Linked DNA regions of Homo sapiens. The protein of the gene in region 2 interacts with the protein of the main gene of each other region in a pairwise test. Each region holds a gene or a part of one and is shown on either strand. Other genes may lie near its edges.

Region 1 (4,046 bases), on a different chromosome or scaffold from region 2:
AAGGGACAACTTGTCTTTCAGCACATTTGACAATAGCAGCTGTAACGAACACACACGTGCACACATGCACACACACACACTACATGTGCACACATGTGCACATGCACACATGCACAAATCACATATGTGGCTTAACACAATACAACATTCTTCCTCCCTTGTGCAAAGCCCACTGTGGATATTGCAAGTTGGGACACTATTCTACCAGCGAAGATTCAGGGATCCCTGCTCCTTCCATCTTGGGAGCTCCTCCTCACTCCCACCCCCAGCTCCAATGGAGTTCCTGTTGTGGATGTGGTCTTCCCACCCACTACACCGGCCTTAGGCAGAGCCTGGCACAGCTGGGATCCTCACTGGGACTACATTGCTGGGCTGCAGACTGCTCCAGAGTCCCCCCAGAAGCCCCTAAATGTCCCTGAAAAGATGAGTCACTGACTGTGCTTTCAGCTCCAAGCAGCCTTTATCAATCTCTCAATCCCCATAGATACTGGGAAAATCTAGGAACATGTTCAGAACTCAAAGAGGGGTCTTCTGCTGCTGCTTTTTGTGGGGAGACAGGATCCCTGAGCTGGGGGACCAGACATCCTGGTGCCCCTGGCTTCAAGCAGCTGGTGGATCTGCGCGCTCAAAACTTGCCCTGGTCTGTATGGCCTCATCCTCTCGCTTGTCCCACTATGATGGATCTCGCTCGCTCCGTAGAGCAGTGGCTTTGCAACCCTAGCCAGCACTGGGGTCGCGCGTGGACTTGTCAGGACACACATTGCTGGGCTCCACCCCGAGTTTCTGATTCTGGGGCGAGGATTGAAAACTTGCTTTTCTAACGAGTTCCCAGCATTTTCGATGCTGCTAGTCCTGAGACCATACTTTGAAAACCGCCCCTCTAGAAAGTGCGATCCCTCCCCAGGAAAGAAGCAGGGCTATTTTTGCTCCAAAAGTATCCATCCTGCACGCCCTCTTCAGTGCTTGGCACGTGGCGAATAAACCAATCAGGATGAAAGGAGCCAACCCAAGTGCGGAGTGTTGAACCTCAGAGGAAGAAACCCGCGTTCACCAGGCCCAGGCCTGGGCCAGGCGCTGTCCTGGCGGCGTCAGGGAGGACATCGTGCCCAGAGCTCGGACCCAGCAGCCCGGCCCCGCGCCCTCCCTGTCCCGCGGCCCGCAGGCCCAGCCCTCAAGCGCCCAGCCTCCGCGGCCTTTGTGGCGTCACAGCCAGCCTGAAGAATGGTTGCCTTGGAGACGTAAACCCAAGAGCCCTGCTCCTGGAGCTGAGAACTGCAGCGCGGAGGCTTCGGAGCGAGCCGGGGCAGTCGGGGTCGGTGGGTGCGCTCGCGGTCCGGGGAGAGGGGGCGCGCGGGGTCCGTGAGGGCGCGTGGGGGCGGCGGCAGGGGTGCGAAACCAGGGCCCGAGGGGCGCGCGTGGCCGGGAGCGGACTTGCAAGGCGCCTTCCAAGGCTGCCCGCTCGCATGCCACTTGCTTGAAACACACCCATCTACCATCCACCCCATCTGTCCTACCATCCCTGTGCACCTCGCTGTGTGGCTCGGGGCCTTGCAGAGCGCGGGTGTTAGGAGGCGACCCTGCGAACCCCAGGCTCACCCAATAGGGGGCTGCAGCAGGAATGCGGCAGGAATGGCACAAGCTTAGAGTGGGGGCCCTTTCCAGAGGCAGCCCCTCCTGACTGTGACTTTGGACACCTCGCTGAATCTCTGCTTCCTCCCCTGCAAAAATGAAAATTCATTCAATGGATGAAGTTAAGAAGTGCCAAGGGTATGTCAGGAGCTTGGATGAGCAGAAAAGACCCCCCTGTTCTCATGGAGCTCACATTTTAGGGGGAAATAGACAACGAATGGATTTTTAAAGTGATAATCAGATAGTGGGAATTGCAGAGAAGAAAATAAAGGCCACATGGGGGTGGGGAGGAAGAAACCACTTTGGATGGGATGGTGAGAGGTCTCTCTAAAGAGGTGACATTTGAGCTCGGAATTGAAGAGAAGGAAGCCCAGCACCCCCAGCTGGGTATGGGAGAATATTTTTTGGCCGAGGAGGCCGAAAATGCAAAGGCTTGAGGCCAAGATTGATGTGTTCTAAGCACAGAAAAAGTAGGCAGCTAGAGCCAAGTCCAGGAGGTGAGAGTGGACCCTCGGGTGGGAGAGGCAGGGAGCCGGCAGGTGTCCCCACAAGGTGAGCCCTCAGCAAATGTCGGTGGCTGTCAGCCACCCAGGGGGAAGGAAGCTCTGGGCTTGGGGACCACCAGGCTCAAGCACTGTGTCACTCCTCAGGTGAGGATCTCCTTTAGAAGAGGAGAAGCCTTGCATCAACCTCTTGGGCCTCAGCCAAGATGTCTGAGATACCGTCCACTATAGTCTCCAAGAACATGACCAATGACAGTAAGTACCGGGCCAGGGTGGGCACTCTCAGAGGTCAGGGGCAGCTTCGGAGCCTGTCCAGCTCCCTCACAGGTTAAGGTAGCTCTAAACCAAACACTAGGCAGGAGTCATAGATCTGCCTACTTCCCTTGAAACAAGGCATATGGATTGCCTGCAGCTGCTGTAACAAAGCACCACCACAAACTGGGGGGCTGGAGTCACAGACATTTGTTTTCTCAAGCTCTGGGGGCTGGATGTCTGAGATCAAGTTGTCCAAAAGGCTAGGTCCCTCCAAGGGCTCTGAGCGAGAACCCATTCCGGGCCTCTCTCCTGGTTTCCAGAGCTTTGCAGGCAATCCTTGGTGCTCTTTGGCTTGTAGAAGCATCACTCCCATCTCAGCCTTCCTGCCCATGTGGAATTCTGCCTGTGTGTGTCTGTGTCCAAATTTCCCCATTTTACAGGGACCCCATCACATTGGATTGGAGGCCTACCCCGCTCCAGAATGGCCTCAGCTTAGTGAATTACAGCTGCAAAGACCTTATTTCCAAACAAGATCACATTCTGAGACAGTAGGGGTTGGGACTTCAACATACGAATTGGGATGACACAGTTCAACCCACAACAGACCATGAGGAAGGTGTCACCGTGAAGGTGAGCTTCTCTCAGCACCCCTCTGACCACAAATGCCAGGCTGGGCTCCAAGGAGGTGGTCAGCTGGCGCTAGGCCCTGGATGAAACATGCCTGCCCTAGTGGAATTGCATGCATTTGCCAAGATCTCACACAGGGCGACGCTGAGGGAGGCTGCCCAGGCCTACCTGGGGCCCTTCAGCTTTTTTATTGGAATTTAATTTGGTTTTGACCAGGCATAGTATTCCATGGTTCAAAATTCAAAAGTGTGTTAAAAGCCCCTCATTGTGAAAAGCCTCTCCCACCCTGTCAAAGGCATACAGTGCCCCTTCCTTAGAGATGGCCACTGTCCCCTGTCTCTTCTAGGCTACCAGCTCAGTGCACATACAGGCAAATGTGTGTAGATGAGGTTTGTTCTTTTCTTACACGGAGATCACACAATGAAAACCCTGTCTGCACCTTGATTTTTTTAATTAACCCATACATTGTAGAGACTGTTCCTTATCAATACATCAAGAATTCCCTTATACTTTTTGTGCTTTTGAGTAGAATAGTAATCTTTCAGTATGGCTGTATCATAATTTATTAACCAATTCTCTGTTCATATGGGTGATTAGCTTGTTTCAGAAAGTGTGCTGCTATAAACAGTGACCCCCACCATTACACTTAGGTGTGCACACGCTCTCTCGTTCTTTTTTTGCTCCAGAGTAAATTTTAAAATGAAGAAGGGCTGGAATAAGGTTTAAAAACAAAGATGGCTTTGAAATGTTTATAGATAACAAATTAACTCTCAATGTGCCCATAAAACAATGCAGATAATTATGCTACCACAAGACAGTTGAAGGACATGTAAACTATATTGATTTGTTTATTGGTATGAGGGGGAGTGCCTAGTTGGGGTACCCTATGACCCTGTGGCATTGGTAATTCCTCGAGATTGATTGAGGGCCTGTGCATTTGTGAGAAAACCAGGCCAGACAGGCAGAGCCAGGATTGGCACCCAGGGCCAGGGGTCTCAGAGTCAGGTGGGTCAGGGAGGTTGGCATGGGCAA
Region 2 (3,339 bases):
GACAGTGGGGTTGTGGTTGGTTGGTATAGAATGGTGGGAATTCAAATTTTTCTAAACTCATGGTAAGTATATTGTAAAATACATATGTACTAAGAATTTTCAAAATTGGTTTGTTCAGTGTGGAGTATATTCAGCAGTATTTTTGACATTTTTCTTTAGAAAAAGGAAGAGCTAAAGGAATTTTATAAGTTTTGTTACATGAAAGGTTGAAATATTGAGTGGTTGAAAGTGAACTGCTGTTTGCCTGATTGGTAAACCAACACACTACAATTGATATCAAAAGGTTTCTCCTGTAATATTTTATCCCTGGACTTGTCAAGTGAATTCTTTGCATGTTCAAAACGGAAACCATTGATTAGAACTACATTCTTTACCCCTTGTTTTAATTTGAACCCCACCATATGGATTTTTTTCCTTAAGAAAATCTCCTTTTAGGAGATCATGGTGTCACAGTGTTTGGTTCTTTTGTTTTGTTTTTTAACACTTGTCTCCCCTCATACACAAAAGTACAATATGAAGCCTTCATTTAATCTCTGCAGTTCATCTCATTTCAAATGTTTATGGAAGAAGCACTTCATTGAAAGTAGTGCTGTAAATATTCTGCCATAGGAATACTGTCTACATGCTTTCTCATTCAAGAATTCGTCATCACGCATCACAGGCCGCGTCTTTGACGGTGGGTGTCCCATTTTTATCCGCTACTCTTTATTTCATGGAGTCGTATCAACGCTATGAACGCAAGGCTGTGATATGGAACCAGAAGGCTGTCTGAACTTTTGAAACCTTGTGTGGGATTGATGGTGGTGCCGAGGCATGAAAGGCTAGTATGAGCGAGAAAAGGAGAGAGCGCGTGCAGAGACTTGGTGGTGCATAATGGATATTTTTTAACTTGGCGAGATGTGTCTCTCAATCCTGTGGCTTTGGTGAGAGAGTGTGCAGAGAGCAATGATAGCAAATAATGTACGAATGTTTTTTGCATTCAAAGGACATCCACATCTGTTGGAAGACTTTTAAGTGAGTTTTTGTTCTTAGATAACCCACATTAGATGAATGTGTTAAGTGAAATGATACTTGTACTCCCCCTACCCCTTTGTCAACTGCTGTGAATGCTGTATGGTGTGTGTTCTCTTCTGTTACTGATATGTAAGTGTGGCAATGTGAACTGAAGCTGATGGGCTGAGAACATGGACTGAGCTTGTGGTGTGCTTTGCAGGAGGACTTGAAGCAGAGTTCACCAGTGAGCTCAGGTGTCTCAAAGAAGGGTGGAAGTTCTAATGTCTGTTAGCTACCCATAAGAATGCTGTTTGCTGCAGTTCTGTGTCCTGTGCTTGGATGCTTTTTATAAGAGTTGTCATTGTTGGAAATTCTTAAATAAAACTGATTTAAATAATATGTGTCTTTGTTTTGCAGCCCTGAATGCAAAGAATTCATAGCAGTTAATTCCCCTTTTTTGACCCTTTTGAGATGGAACTTTCATAAAGTTTCTTGGCAGTAGTTTATTTTGCTTCAAATAAACTTATTTGAAAAGTTGTCTCAAGTCAAATGGATTCATCACCTGTCATGCATTGACACCTGATACCCAGACTTAATTGGTATTTGTTCTTGCATTGGCCAAAGTGAAAATTTTTTTTTTTCTTTTGAAATCTAGTTTTGAATAAGTCTGGGTGACCGCACCTAAAATGGTAAGCAGTACCCTCCGGCTTTTTCTTAGTGCCTCTGTGCATTTGGGTGATGTTCTATTTACATGGCCTGTGTAAATCTCCATTGGGAAGTCATGCCTTCTAAAAAGATTCTTATTTGGGGGAGTGGGCAAAATGTTGATTATTTTCTAATGCTTTGTAGCAAAGCATATCAATTGAAAAGGGAATATCAGCACCTTCCTAGTTTGGGATTTGAAAAGTGGAATTAATTGCAGTAGGGATAAAGTAGAAGAAACCACAAATTATCTTGTGCCTGAAATCCATTAAGAGGCCTGATAGCTTTAAGAATTAGGGTGGGTTGTCTGTCTGGAAGTGTTAAGTGGAATGGGCTTTGTCCTCCAGGAGGTGGGGGAATGTGGTAACATTGAATACAGTTGAATAAAATCGCTTACAAAACTCACACTCTCACAATGCATTGTTAAGTATGTAAAAGCAATAACATTGATTCTCTGTTGTACTTTTTTGTAACTAATTCTGTGAGAGTTGAGCTCATTTTCTAGTTGGAAGAATGTGATATTTGTTGTGTTGGTAGTTTACCTAATGCCCTTACCTAATTAGATTATGATAAATAGGTTTGTCATTTTGCAAGTTACATAAACATTTATCAATGAAGTCATCCTTTAGACTTGTAATCGCCACATTGTTTCATTATTCAGTTTCCTCTGTAAAGGGATCTTGAGTTGTTTTAATTTTTTTTTTCTGCATCTGAATCTGCATGATTTCCAAACCCTGTACCATCTGAATTTTGCATTTTAGCACTTGCACTATTACTCAGCAGCAGTAACATGGTAACACTTAAAATGGTACTCGGGGACCTCCAAAGACTAAACTGACAAGCCTTCAAGGAGCCCAGGGGTAAGTTAACTTGTCAACGGCATGGTTTAATCCCTTCTTTACACTTGTGTAAATTTCAGTTACTGGTCATAGAAGGCTTTCAATGTTGAGTGGCCTTTTATTAACATGTTTATGGTACTGCATAGATACGGGTATTTATTTTACCCTAAGAAGATTTTGAAGTTTAAAAGTACTTAAACTATTTGGCAAAGATTTGTTTTTAAAAATCTATTTGGTCAATCTAAATGCATTCATTCTAAAAAATTTTTTGAACCAGATAAATAAAATTTTTTTTTGACACCACAGTTTAGTGTCTGGAGTCTTACTGGAAAAACACGATTTCTTTTTATATGTGATATACAGATGCTGGAAAGTTACCTTTAAAAATTGAGTCTCTAAAGAAAAAAGAAAATAATAAAAATTGAGTCTCAAGAAGTTGTACTTCATATGCACAAGAGAAATGAGGCCAAGACTCACAGTAAGCTTTTACATGGAATGGTAACTTTTAGTTAGACTGAAAAACTTGAATGTTAGCTATTAAAACCTTTTAGGAAGGAATAGCCAGCTAAAACCAAATGAGATTTTTAAAGTTAAATCAGCACTTAAGTTGTGTCCTTAGTAGGAAAAAGTAGGAAGTTAACTACTCCGTAATCCAAGAGATAATGTGTAACAGTAAGAATGATTTTGTTGTTGTTGAGTATGAGCAAAGTAGCCCCTAAGTGTGTATTAGGGTTCTGTACTTAACTGTTGTGTGATGTGTGCTTTTGTTAGGCATCACTGTGCCCAAGTATTTCATGTTCATTGT

What was found.
Region 1: the proteins of TARDBP (region 2) and CFAP100 interact in binary tests that used the Homo sapiens proteins (3 or more experiments, as listed by UniProt).

The regions. Positions count from the first base shown.
Region 1 is NC_000003.12:126,393,663-126,397,708, forward strand, and holds the start of CFAP100 (cilia- and flagella-associated protein 100), read left to right. Parts: upstream 1-1,246; 5' UTR 1,247-1,316; intron 1,317-1,662; exon of another isoform or gene 1,663-1,767; intron 1,768-2,279; 5' UTR 2,280-2,338; coding exon 2,339-2,387; intron 2,388-4,046. UniProt on the Homo sapiens protein: May play a role in ciliary/flagellar motility by regulating the assembly and the activity of axonemal inner dynein arm.
Region 2 is NC_000001.11:11,022,654-11,025,992, forward strand, and holds the end of TARDBP (TAR DNA-binding protein 43), read left to right. Parts: coding exon 1-1; 3' UTR 2-2,839; downstream 2,840-3,339. UniProt on the Homo sapiens protein: RNA-binding protein that is involved in various steps of RNA biogenesis and processing.